Linked DNA regions of Homo sapiens: region 2 is linked to region 1. The links come from fine-mapping of genetic effects on gene expression. Tissue or cell type: whole blood. Region 1 holds a variant in brackets; the other region holds the start of a gene. All regions are shown on one strand. Distances are from middle to middle.

Region 1 (8,103 bases):
TTCCAGCCACTTTGCCTTTCATTTTGGAGAACATTAAGGAGGACTTAGCGAAAGAATAATGGTAAAGTTATTTTCTCTATTTTCTTTTTCCCTAGTACCTCCTCCTCCAATAGAAGCAAACAAATAAACAAAAGAGACTCAATTATTGGTCAGCCTATAAGCTGTGTGCCTTGAGTTTGGGGATATACTGTAAAGTAAACACTAAGACCTTTGTAGCTGCTTACTAGTCTGGTGGCCAAACTTCAGGAAACTAATTACTTAAATGCTTAGGTAGCAGGATATGGAGTATTTAGGGTTTTTATTTTTTCCTTTTTTGCTTCTGGCTGTGATTTGTGATGTGAGAATGAAGAGGTTTTTCTTTTTTTTTTTTAATTTTTTTACGACTTTGCCTTCCCAGCAAGATATTGAATGAACCGAATGCAGGGACCCAAGGATGCCTCATTACCAGGAGTATTAAAAAGCCCTGCAGAATTGTTACTACAGCTAATGGAAATCATACTGGAAAGAGAGCAATTATTTCTCCCTGTAAACAAAACAAAACAGAAGGCCATAAGATTTTTCTTGAATTTTTTGAGACAGAAGTGTTCTTACAAAGATGTCTAGGTTAGTTTCCTACCTTTTAGAACTTGATAAGACCATGAAAGCAGTAATACAGGTTCTCAGGCAATTGTGTTTTAAAATTATTTTCTACTTTATTAATTCTTCTGATTACACAAATAATGTAAGATAATCACACCAGTGAGACTATGCAAAATATATGAAGAAAATGTTTTTAAAAATATCCTTCAATCCACTCTCACTATAACCCCAAACTATTTTATACATGTTTAAAGGAGCTATGTATTTACCTGTAATAAGGAGGCAAAAGCCATCTGAAGTATCAAAAGTTTCTTTCGTTTTGATTAGAGTTGTATCAAATTGATGCAATTATACCGACTAGGCAGATGCTGACCCCAAGTTCTGATTGGCAGTTCTACACGCTACTGATAAATACAAGTGGGGAACATAATTAGTACTTAACTAACAGTTTGGTAGCAAAGTAAGAGCCCATGTGAGAAGAATAAAAGATATCCTTGAAGGCAAAAAGATCCAGAACTTATCATCATTTGCCACCTGGCCCAGCATCCATGGGCATATCTAACTTGTTATACTTTCAGTAAATCTATGTAGGTTCTGACTCATACTCAAGTGGTAACTCATCAGTCTTTCCTTCACAAAGGTGGCGCAGTCTGGGGATATGCCTGACAGAGGTAATGGGTTATTGATTTTCATATTGCCATTGAGTAACAGTCATATTCTTCTGCATCCCATTCTTGTGGTAACTATGAAAAAGTAAATTTCTAGACTTAATAGGCTCCAATAGTTATTATTAAGGTGACATTTATGGTTCTGGAGACTGTCAATTCTTACATAATGAAATTAAGAACCATCCACCATTAAGCTAGAAGGAGTCTAAACACTCTCATAGTGACATGCACCCATCTCTGTACTCCCAGCTCAATGCCAGCTGAGTCAAGACATGAAAAGATCATGGATTTTGGAATCCTGAATCGTATTCTTACTACCTATATATGGTTCCTTATGTGTAAAAGAAAGAATACTAACATTTTTCTTGGGATCACTATTAAATGAAAAAGAGGCATACAAGTTTGGTAAATACCCTTTTCCTCCCCCTGGGGTAAGTTACTGTACCTGCAATCTTCCTGTGTATCTTAGCCCTGGTCTGACATCAGCAAAGGAGAAAATATTGTTTGCCTATCTCCAGAGAAAGATAACTTTACACAGATGAAAGCAGAATTAGACTGAATTCTTCCATTAAATCTTCACAAGTATATTATATAAAAGTTTTGTAAACAAAACTTTCGGGAAGTGCTGAGATGGTAAAGTGACATAGCTTCCTTTATTGAAGGAATTCTTGGTGATACAAAGCCATTTGCAGAAAGACTAGGAATTCGCTTCATCCAACAGTCCTAAAAGGCTTAACCCATTCCAGCATCAACCCAAGGGCAAAATCTCATATGTCATCAACTCAAATGGTCCCAAATGCCATCTAAGTGAGGTATAGGTGAGACTCTGGATATGACCCATCTTTGGGTAAAATTCCTGTACATCTATGGATCTATGGACTAGGAAACAAGTTATATGCTTCCAAAATGGAGTGCTGGAGAGGCATGGAGTTAACATTTTCATTCTCCTAGGGAAGCAGGAGCCTAGGAAAGCCAGGGTGACACCATTTTAAAAATGACCTCATCTTTAAACTAGCAAAACACATTCTTTGCTGGCCACAACCAATGGTCATAAGATGTTTGCAGTTAAGGGAGCAGATTAATAATGAGGATATTATGTGAAGTAGTTTCCACACTTATTTGACTCCAGAAAATGTTTTTCATCCAGAATAGTTTGTTGGACTAGAAATATGAAGAAAATTCTTTGGGAAGAATGATCACAAAAAAATCCATATAGCTGGCCTTTTGCTTATTTGACTGCTATGTGCCTGCCTCATACAAGCTTGGTACAATTGATGGCTACTGTACACAACAGTTTAGTAATCCTGTATTCTGCGTTTCTCATATCAGGTACACAGGGGAGGGTTTAACATTGGAAATGGGTGGAGTTCTAAGGGGAGTAGAAAAAGTTTGATTTAAAAAGTCGTGAAGATTTAAACAAGGAGTACAAGAGATGACTAAGATGTTTGCTCAATGGCAATGAAGAAATACCCTTAATTTGTATTGAAGCCAAAAGTCAGATCTCTGTGACTTCTCTAGTGGTATCAGCTTGGATTCAGGAGTGGAGATAGCAGGCAGGAAGCACTTTGAGGTAAGATGGAAACCATGAGAGGCCAAAATCAAACTTAGACAATAAATGCCAAGATACATAATCTGCAAAGTATTACGTGCTCCTAATGGGCTGCAACAATGACTACTGCTATTATTGTTATAAAAACAACTTGTGCTAATAAAATAAAACATCAGAAAAAGATTCTAGGGTGATGGCAATAATGTCATTAAATGATTGACCAAAGGATCCATGCTAGATGGGAGAAAAGTAAAGTCAGAACTGACATAGGTAGACAAGGAGGAGTGGTTGACTGGAAATCACAATGAGAAAAAAAGCATCATAAAGGGAAATGAGATACCATATTAGAGTAAGTAAGGCTAATTGCTATAATAATATCCCCAACTCTAGTGTCTAAGACAGTGACAGTTCATTTTTCTCTTGAGAAATCTTGTGCTGATGTGCTAGCAGAGTAGCTTTCCTACAGGCGGTGACTCAGACTCAAGATCTTTCTATCCAATTGTTTATTGAAATCCTCAAAAAGGCTGAGTGGTTGGCAAGAGAAAAACAATAGAGATTATGCATTATCTGTTAGCAGCCAGTTGGAAGTGGTATATATCACTTTTGCCAAAGTTTGCTTCAAAGCCACAACTAGACATATTGCAATTGGGAAATATAGCCTTTCTTTGTGCCCAGAAGAGAAATAAAACGACCTCCTGAAAAACATAACATTGCCCCCACAACACACAGTCACTGCCCTCACAAGCTAATATTAATGAAGAGCCAGGCAATCATCATTCATTCAATGAGAGAGTCATAGAGTATACACTAGGTTCTACCGAGTCACAGGGTCAGGAGTGATTAATTCTGGCTAGGTGAGTCCAACAAAGCATTATTGAAAGGTCGACTTTAACCTGAGCCTTGAAGGATGCCTGGGAGGCCACCTAGCAGAAAAGGCAAGGAAGAAAATTTCTAATGGAGAGAGGAGCATTAGCCAAGACAGAGAACTTTGGAAGAACATGGCATTCTTTTATATACAGCGGGTAGTGGAGAGAACACTGGAAGGATGAGGCTTCGGGGAGAGGACAGGCCAGTTTAAAGAATGGAGAGTTAATTTTAGGGTAAAATGAGGTCCCATGAAAGATTGTAAAGCAGAAGGAAGATTGGCATGATGAGACTGAACATTAAAAGAATAGCTGAAGCTGAAGTAGAGGAAGCAGAAGTGTAGAATACTGGAGAAGAGCAATATGGAAAATATTTTACAGTCTTCTTAGAAGTAAAGGATGAAAACGCACATGAAGCCAGCGGACAATAGGCAGGATCCATCAGTCAGTTTTGGTGATGGCTGAATTAACAGACTTGACTTCCCACCTTCATCTCCCATTCACTGACTGGAGGCTGTTGACCCTAAACTGAAATCACCCCATCTTTCACCATCTTCTAACATCTATAACCCCTTTCTCATACCTCCTCCTTTCTGTTCTTTCCCAAGTAACAAAGGACTTCATTTTGTTTTCAAAAACCCTACCAAGTTGCTGATTAGTTGGTTAGTTTCTGGTAAGAAAGACTATAAGGATTGACTATAATAGTAGAATTTTGAGCACTGGAAATCTAAAAAGTACATTGATTTTTAACAGAACATTCTTTTATGTTTTCATGAATAAAGCCATCTATACAAGATGCCTCCTTTATTTCTACATATAGTGCTGTCACGAACCCTGCCTCATAGGCAGTAATGGCTTGTTTCATAGACTGCACATTCCTGGTCACTAAAAACTGTTATCTTTTTTAGAAAAGTATCAGTTTGAACCACAATGCCCTATCATTTTCTTCCCTTCCCAAGATGTCTGT[C/T]ATAGAAGTTTGATCAGTTTACATTGTCAATAATGTTGCCAAATTACTTGCAACACTGGAAAAAAGGGATCAAATAGCAAGATCAATGAGACATAGGGGAACCACATCTGGTGCTTTACATCAGTTGTCCACTAACTGCCAGTCTTAATTGGTACTGTGTTTAAAAATACAAATATTGCTGATAAGTAATGACACAAAGACATGCATTAATAAATGTGAAGTTCAGAGCTTTCTTTTGTGGCTTCATCAGTTTCTTTCCAGCTCCCAGACCCTTACCCTCTTCTGTCCCCCACAGACAACCATTGTTGTCTATTGTCTAAGAAGCATGCCATTCAGTCTCCAATGCAGAAGCTAGTCAGATTTTTCTATAGAAAGGCCATTTAGACTCCCACATAATAGGCTGAATATTAGCTTGAGGTTCTTGTGTGGATGGTTTAAATTGACTCTAAGTTACCAAGCTGTTTTCTAAGCATCAAATGACCACAAGGCATTATTACAGCACTCAAGACCCTTGAAGTTTTTAGTCTTAATACTTCTACCAATTGTACCAAGTTCTGCAATCAAGGAACAGAGGGGACAATCAGGTTCTGCAGAATGTCTTTTCAATCAATGTTTGTTGAATACTGTTGTAAGCCCAGCAGCATTCAAGATAAAATGGAATGGGAAGTGAAGATAAACCAAACTGTATATACACACAAGGAGTTTACCGTCTTGTAAGGAAGATACACACATATACTCCCGACAGAGATACACAATAGTATTGGAAGGATGGAGCAGAAGGGACAAAGTTAGGAGACATTTGAAAAATGGATTCAACTGGATTATGATACATGATTTTTGACTGAAATGCATTAAACATTTCCATAAGTAGGTACTTTGCTAAGCCCTTTCCATGCAAAATCACATCCAATCCTCACAATAACTCTATGACATGGGTATTACTATCCTCACTTACTTGCAAATGAGAAAACTGAAGCTCAGAAAGAAAAGATAGGCAGCTCTACCAAGCTTTAAAAAGGGGATAAAGTTAACATTTAAGCCCAGTTATGTCTGGTTCCTGAGTCTGCTCTCTTAACCATGATGCTATATGACTTTCTGAGATACTGGGGTTAGAGAAAGGGGAGATAAATATGTGGCTGAGTTTTCAAGTGAAGGCAATTACAAGAATGATGGTGTGTTTGCCACACAGCAGAGCAACTCCCATGTTCAGTTTTTATTATGAGGAGTTAGTTTGGGACCCAATTCAGGTGGTCTATACTCAGTAAATGAAAAGTGAATCAGTTTCCCTGAAAAATGAATGATTTTATTGAGCTGAAATTCACTTGATTTGGGAAAATAGAAAAACTTTAAACCCCTTTTGTTGAAAATACATGACTCTGGAGAAAAGTTAGCTTTTTTTTTTTTTTTTTGAGGTGGAGTCTTGCTCTGTCACCCAGGCTGGAGTGCAGTGGCAAGATCTCGGCTCACTGCAATCTCTGCCTCCCAGGTTCAAGCAATTCTCCTGCCTCAGCTCCTGAGTAGCTGGGATTACAGGTGCGTGCCACCACGCACGCTAATTTTTGTATTTTTAGTAGAGACGGGGTTTCACCATGTTGGTCAGGCTGGTCCTCAAACTCCTGAACTTGTGATCTGCCCACCTTAGCCTCCCAAAGTGCTGGGATTACAGGTGTGAGCCACCGCGCCCAGCCCTTATTCTAAACCTTTTATTAATAAGGATTCATTTAATTCTCATGATAGCCCCATGACATTGGTACTGTTTCCCCCCACTTTACAGATGAGAAAACTGAGGCAAAGAGAGGTTATGTTACTTTCCCAAGGTCTCTCTCATCTTGTAAGAGCTGTACTTGGTACTTGAGCTCAGGCTGATCTGATGTTAGAGTCATGACCACTGAGACTGCTGCATCTATTTCCAGTTGACGATGAAATGACCCAGAGCTACTGGACCCTTATTTGGAGGCTACCCCCAATTCCAGTTTCCAGAACCAACCATGTTTCATTTGGGGTTATTTTAAGGAAGCTTAGGTCAGTAGCTCAGGTTCATCTTGCTCTGCCCATGGACTGCTTCAGTTTTGGGAATCAGATTTTTCCTTTCTTCCTATAACTAAGCCCTTTTACATATTTCCTCTTGGGAAACTTTCTCTTCTTGGGCCCTATTCCCTTATAACCAGTAAGATGCTCTGCCAGAATACTTTTTCTAGGAAGCAGGCCTGCAAGGCTCAAAGCACTGCTTGCTCTTGTTAATCCTCAACCTGCCTCTAGGTTTATAGTAAACCCTAGAAAGATGGCTTAGGTTCTGCTACCCACTTACAAATTCCTTCTTGAATCCAATTCCTTCCAGATCTGCAGTCATGCTTTGTATTCAGGTTAGTATCCCATCACAATGTTTCAGGCAACCTTGGGGCAGCCCATGATCTCTTGTTAGGTCCCCTGGATGCCAGCTTTTGCGTGGATGCCTCTTGTCACTTGCCACCATGCCACATGCCACCATGATTTCTGTGCCACACCTTCTGAATGAAAGCATTTTCTAGAGCTGCTTCTCTCCTCCCCACCTCTCAGGTATTTATGCCACCTACCTTAGGTAGATCTAAACCCAGGGTTCAGATTCATGTAGGTAACTCTTTGATGTCGTACATTTTAACATAAATCACATGAGAGGGAGAAGGTGTAGGGGAAGCAAAGGAAGGAAAGGGTGCAGTGGGAGAGGCAAGAAGGAGATACAGAGGAAGAAAATGAAAGACTGAAGAGAAGGAATCAGGGAAGGAACTAGAGAGGGGGAGATAGAAAAAGAGTGAGGAAGAGTAGGGGAGACAATGGGGAGAAAAGAGAAGAGAAAAATGCAGCCACACCTTTTTAAAAAGTAGAGTTGAAAATATAAGAACACAATTAACCCTTCCCAGGTAGCAGATACTGTCTTTCCAGTCACCCAACAGAAGCAAAATAGTCACAATGGCTTCAAAAGTCCCACAGTTAAACTTGAACAAGTCGTGGAACTGTTTGACATACAGAATCCAAGAAGGGTTTCTCTTTGAGTGTTGTCACTACACGTTAGACTTCCTAGATTCTCCACTCCCAAAGGAGCCATTTAACCTCTGCTTGAATGTTAATGTTCTGTTGGGGAAAATTGTCTTATTTCCACTATTCTCACAAACAGTAGCAAGTATTTGGTAAATAAAGGAAATTTAAACAGCTTGGGGAGTGCCTATGCAATGCCAAAACCAACAGGCAATCTGATAAAAAATTTAATTCATCAAGCCTATTTATTGATCCTTTTATTCATTTGTTTGCTGAGCATCTGCTGGTGCAAGACAAGGTATGCATGTGAGGAGATCTTTAGCTGGACTCATGTTTTATCTGCCTTCAGAGAGACTTCAAGCTATTTTAGGATAGGGGACTTCACACGAATAATTACAACACAGGATAAGAAGGGATAACATGAGAAAGTGATGTGGATCTTACGAAGGGAAGGCCAAACTCAGT
Region 2 (5,000 bases), 180 kb after region 1:
CTAATCTCAGGCCATCTGAAATTCAACTCATTTACCTGCTGTAACACGTTGCCTCTGGTGAGTAGTGTAGCTAATCTCTCACACCTGGAGAAACAGACTGCATCCCTCATACCTGGGTTGAAGATCCAGTTTACATCAGGAAGACCTTGGGCAAAGCCCTTCCCTTCTATAACCCTCATTGTTTGAATCCATAAAAAAAAAATTCAAGGGTTATATTGGCAGCATCAAAAGAGACGATGTATGTGAAAACACTTTGTAAACTACAAAATGCTTTTCAAAAGCTGATTGATATTTTCCAAAAGTACACTGGTAGGTTGCTTTTCCGATCTCGAAATGACAATCAAATCAAATCATCCCAACAGGAGAAACACCTTCTTTCTGTTTGGAGGAGTGCCAAAACGTTGTAAGACATCATGAGTCCCTCAAAAAGCTCTGGCTGGTGTGGACAGAAATATTTACACATTTCCCTGGATTAGAAAGCAGAGCAACATGACTGCTATACGGGCTCTGACAAGTGACTTGAGAACTGTTCTGGAGACGTTTAGGAGGCTTTATTTAAACAACAGATTCTGCAGCTAAAAATAAGCATATACTGTATTTGATACAATATATAATAATACATATATTATTTATAAATTTATTATTCTGAAATACATAGTACATATGTATATATAATTATATATCATTTATGTATACATATACATATATATTTTATCTTATCCCATTATCTTATGGGAATGTATACGAAGGAATACTTACTCTGCCTAGGAGAACCAGAGAATGCTTTTAGGAGGAGGAGGCACTAGAGTGGGCCTTGAAGGATGAGCAGGGAGGGGTGAGGGGAGGGTCTGCTGAACAAGCAGAACTCCATGAACAAGAGTGTGGAAGTCTGAAGATGCATGGCATAGCTAATAGTCCATAAGGAATGGAGTAGGCCATACCTGAGGCAGGATGGGGCAGGCAGGCAAGCTGAGTAATAGGTCAGATGAAAACTATACCGAAGGTCCTGTGTGTCATTTAAAAATAAATTTGATTATCCAGGTCAGCAATTCTCACCCTCCTAACATGGTCAAGGAAACTGGTTCCTGCAACCTGGAGGCTTGCTGGGGGTTAAAGAGGGAAGTGGTGAGTAAGGGAGGAGTATTACTTGGTGACTCCATGAACTGGGTTTTAGATTTAGTTTTTGCAACATCATTCTATACTATTATCCCCAGGCCTTCAGTAAAGCAATGTTCAGAGTAACTGCTTGATCTTAGCCAATTCTTAAGATATTTAAAAAAAAAAAAAAGGCTCCGTCCCAGGCTTGTACTGAACAGTGCCAAGGCTTGGAGAGCTGGTGCAGCTGGGGGAAGCTGGTCAGGACTGCTGGGGAGACTGCAAAAGACTCTAGAGGTAGTCTGGAACAAATGACGTGGTGAGAAACTAGAAGGGAAAATTTATGGAATAGGGAGCCTTCTCCAGGGTTTTCCAGAAATATTTACGGAGGGAAACCTAGTAAAAGAAGAAACTTCCAGCAGTTAAACAAAATGGAGGTTTGGAGTCGTCTTATCATGTCGACCCTAAAGAGTACTATGACCACAATAGGATGGAGGCCCTGGTGACATTTACTCCTTCAACAAGCTCTCAGAGGAATAAATCATGCTAAGCTGAGCCTGAGCCTCTCTTCTCAGAAGAGCTATTGCCTGGGAAACCCACACTCACCAGCCAAATGCTCTCTGTTGGTATTGCTTCCACCCTTGAGCCAGGCAGTCTAGCTGAAGGTTGCCATCCAACTTCAGCGTCCATGTGGCCCGGGGTTTTGCCTCTTGGATTAGTTCTTGAAATGTCTGCTCCCAAGTCCAGAAATCTACAACCATTTTTTCCCTCTGAAGCTGAGAGAGTAGCTTTCAGGTTTGCTCGTTTCTCAGGAAGAGACAAACAGTTTCAGTTTCGGTGTTCGGTTCAGTTTCTGTTTCTGTGTATGGACATGAGCTGTTTTTTTCAACCTTCATTTTAGACTGTCTGAGTACACAGAACAAGTCTTTGTTCTGAAAACAGACAGCAGCAAAACTGTGTTAGTTAATAGGCCTTGCTGAGAGAGAGATAAAGAGCTCTGTTCTAGATTCTGGGGTCACATATAAATTCGCTTTTATTTTCTCTCTCTCATTTTTTATAATAGGCAAAGTGAGAGGTGACAGCATGCTGGTAGCCCTCGCAGCCCTCGCTCGCTCTCGGAGCCTCCTCGGCCTCGGTGCCCACTCTGGCCGCGCTGGAGGAGCCCTTCAGCCAGCCACTGCACTGTGGGAGCCCCTTCCTGGGTAGGCCAAAGCCAGAACCGGCTCCCTCAGCCTGCTGGGAGATGTGGAGGGAGAGGCACGGGCAGGAACCGGGGCTGCATGCAGGGCTTGCAGGCCAGCTAGAGTTCTGGGTGGGCGTGGGCTTGGCGGGCCCTGCACTCGGAGCGGCCGGCAGGCCCCCAGCCCTGGGCAGTGAAGTGCTTAGCACCTGGGCCAGCAGCTGCGGAGGGTGCGCCAGGTCCCCCAGCAGTGCCGGCCCACCGGCACTGAGCTCGATTTCTCGCTGGGCCTTAGCTGCCTCTCTGTGGGGCAGGGCTCGGGACCTGCAGCCCGCCATGCCTGAGTCTCCCCACCCTGGGCTCCTGCATGGCCCAAGCCTCCCCGACGAGTGCCACCCCCTGCTCCATGGTGCCTGGTCCCATCGACCGCCCAAGGGCAGAGAAGTGCGGGCACACACGCAGGACTGGCAGGCAGCTCCACCTGCTGCCCCCGGGGCGGGATCCACTGGGTGAAGCCAGCTGGGCTCCTGAGTCTAGTGGGGACTTGGAGAACCTTTATGTCTAGCTAAGGGATTGTGAATACACCAATGGGCACTCTGTATCTAGCTCAAGGTTTGTAAATGCACCAATCAGCACCCTGTGTCTAGCTCAGGGTTTGTGGATGCACCAATCAGCACCCTGTCAAAACGGACCAATCAGCTCTCTGTAAAACAGACCAATTGGCTCTCTGTAAAATGGACCAATCTGCAGGATGTGGGTGGGGCCAGATAAGAGAATAAAAGCAGGCTGCCCCAGCCAGCACTGACAACCGGCTCGGGTCCCCTTCCACGTGGTGGAAGATTTGTTCTTTTGGTTTTTGCAATGAATCTTGCTGCTGCGCAGTGTTTGGGTCTGCTCTGCCTTTATCAGCTGTTAACACTCACCCGGAAGGTCTGCAGCTTCACTCTTGAGCCAGCAAGACAATAAACCCACCAGAAGGAAGAAACTCAGAACACATCCGAACATCAGAAGGAACAAACTCTGGGCACTGTGCCTTTATGAGCTGTAACACTCACCATGAGGGTCGGTGGCTTCATTTTTGAAGTCAGTGAGACCAAGAACCCACCAATTCCGGACACAAAAGCACTGTTTTTGGCACTGGGAAAAGAGTATCCTGTAGCTAAGAAACAATTCCTGCCCCCACAGATGCTCACACCCAGGTGGAGACAGGGAGGTTAGGAGCAGCGTAGGGGAGCACGTGTTTAATGCTCATCTCCTACACCCCATGTATCCTCACCAGTCCCGCGAAGGATTATTCTTGGAGTTTTGCAGGTTAACTGCACAGAAAGCTGGGGTACTTTGTCCAAATCCCCTCAGTTAACGAGCAGTGGAAGTGAGACTTGAACCCGGGTCTGTGTGACTCCAAAACCTGCCATGTGTCCGCCCACCTCACTCCCTGAAGAGAAGCTGAGAATGGCATTTCAGGTTCCAGGCTGGCACACTGGAGCCAGTGTCAGAGGAACCGTAGGGAGATTTCCTGGGTCCTGAGGCAGGAGGTCAGCTGCATGAAGGGATTATCAAACTCTGCCCTCCACTCTGTAAATTATGTGGAAGGGCAAATACGCACAGGTGTGGGGGCCGTCTTTCAGTGGTAGGATACAGAGAATTCCCATTTTGGGGTAAGGGATTGAGATGAGATGACCTTTAAAGACACTTGTAAGTCTAAAACGCGGAGATTCCAGAGAGTAAGCTTTGTCCTCCTGGGGCTTAAATTCAAATAGGGGAGATAGGACAAGCAGGATGCTTACTTAGGTCTTTAGAACACCCGCTACAGCTTCTGTGTCTGAGACAGGATCAGCCTCAGTCTTCCTGGGTTTTCTAGGCTTCCATGTGCCCTGTCAGCGACTCAGAGACACCCTCTCTCTTTCCTTCCCTTCCTGGATACCTGTGTCTATACACATGATATAGGAAGCTCTAAGAACTTGTAATTGGATCCACAGGATGTTAGAGTTGGGAAAACCCTTAGAAATCAACTTATCCCTTTTCCCTTTAATTTTTATACACGAGAAAACTGAGGCTGGGCACCGTGGCTCACGCCTGTGATCTCAGCACTTCGGGAGGCCAAGGAGGGTAGATCACTTGAGGTCAGGAGTTTGAGACCACCTGACCAACATGATGAAACCCCATCTCTACTTTAAAAATTACAAAGTCAGCCAGGCATGATGGCGCATGCCTGTAATCCCAGCTACTTGGGAGGCCAGGGCAGGGGAATTGCCTGAACCCAGGAGGCAGAGGTTGCAGTTAGCCGAGGTCATGCCATTGCGCTCCAGCCTGAGTGACAAGAGCATAACTCCGTCTCAAAAAAAAAAAAAAAAAAAAGAGAAAAGAAAACTGAGACCCAGAGGAATAAGGTCTCTTGCCTAAGGTCACACAGCAAATTAGTGCCAATACAGGGCCTGGCTTCAAGTTCTGCTCTCTTGCTCCACCCATGCATAAATCATTTCTCTACCCTTTCTCTTCACTTTCCGCTGGGTTTAGGATCCCAAGTCCACTCTACTTATTCTGTATCTTCAGAGTGTACCTTCAGAGAGTCCCCTTACCCCTGACACCTCAAATGCTCTGTTTTTCCCAAAAGGTAGCTTGATCCGGCGCATTGCATGCCTTCATGATTTCCTTCTGCCTCTTCTTCATGTGTGCCCTTTGATATACCCAATTGTTCAGGTCAGCCTGGTCCTTTGCATGGGGG

What was found. PIP is the estimated chance that this variant, and not a neighbour inherited with it, causes the effect.
Region 2: it holds the start of RTP4, and the variant in region 1 is fine-mapped to the expression of RTP4 in whole blood (INTERVAL, PIP 0.96).

Annotation. Positions count from the first base shown.
Region 1 is chr3:187,545,812-187,553,914 of GRCh38, reverse strand. No RefSeq gene overlaps it. Among named protein-coding and RNA genes, the nearest start is that of LINC02041, 100 kb to the right of the region's middle. The variant C/T (reference allele first, on the strand shown) is at 4,627.
Region 2 is chr3:187,365,298-187,370,297 of GRCh38, reverse strand. RTP4 (receptor transporter protein 4) reads right to left here and starts at 1,913. Exons shown (of 2, transcript NM_022147.3): 1 at 1,702-1,913. The coding sequence starts at 1,856. RefSeq lists an enhancer at 1,703-2,052.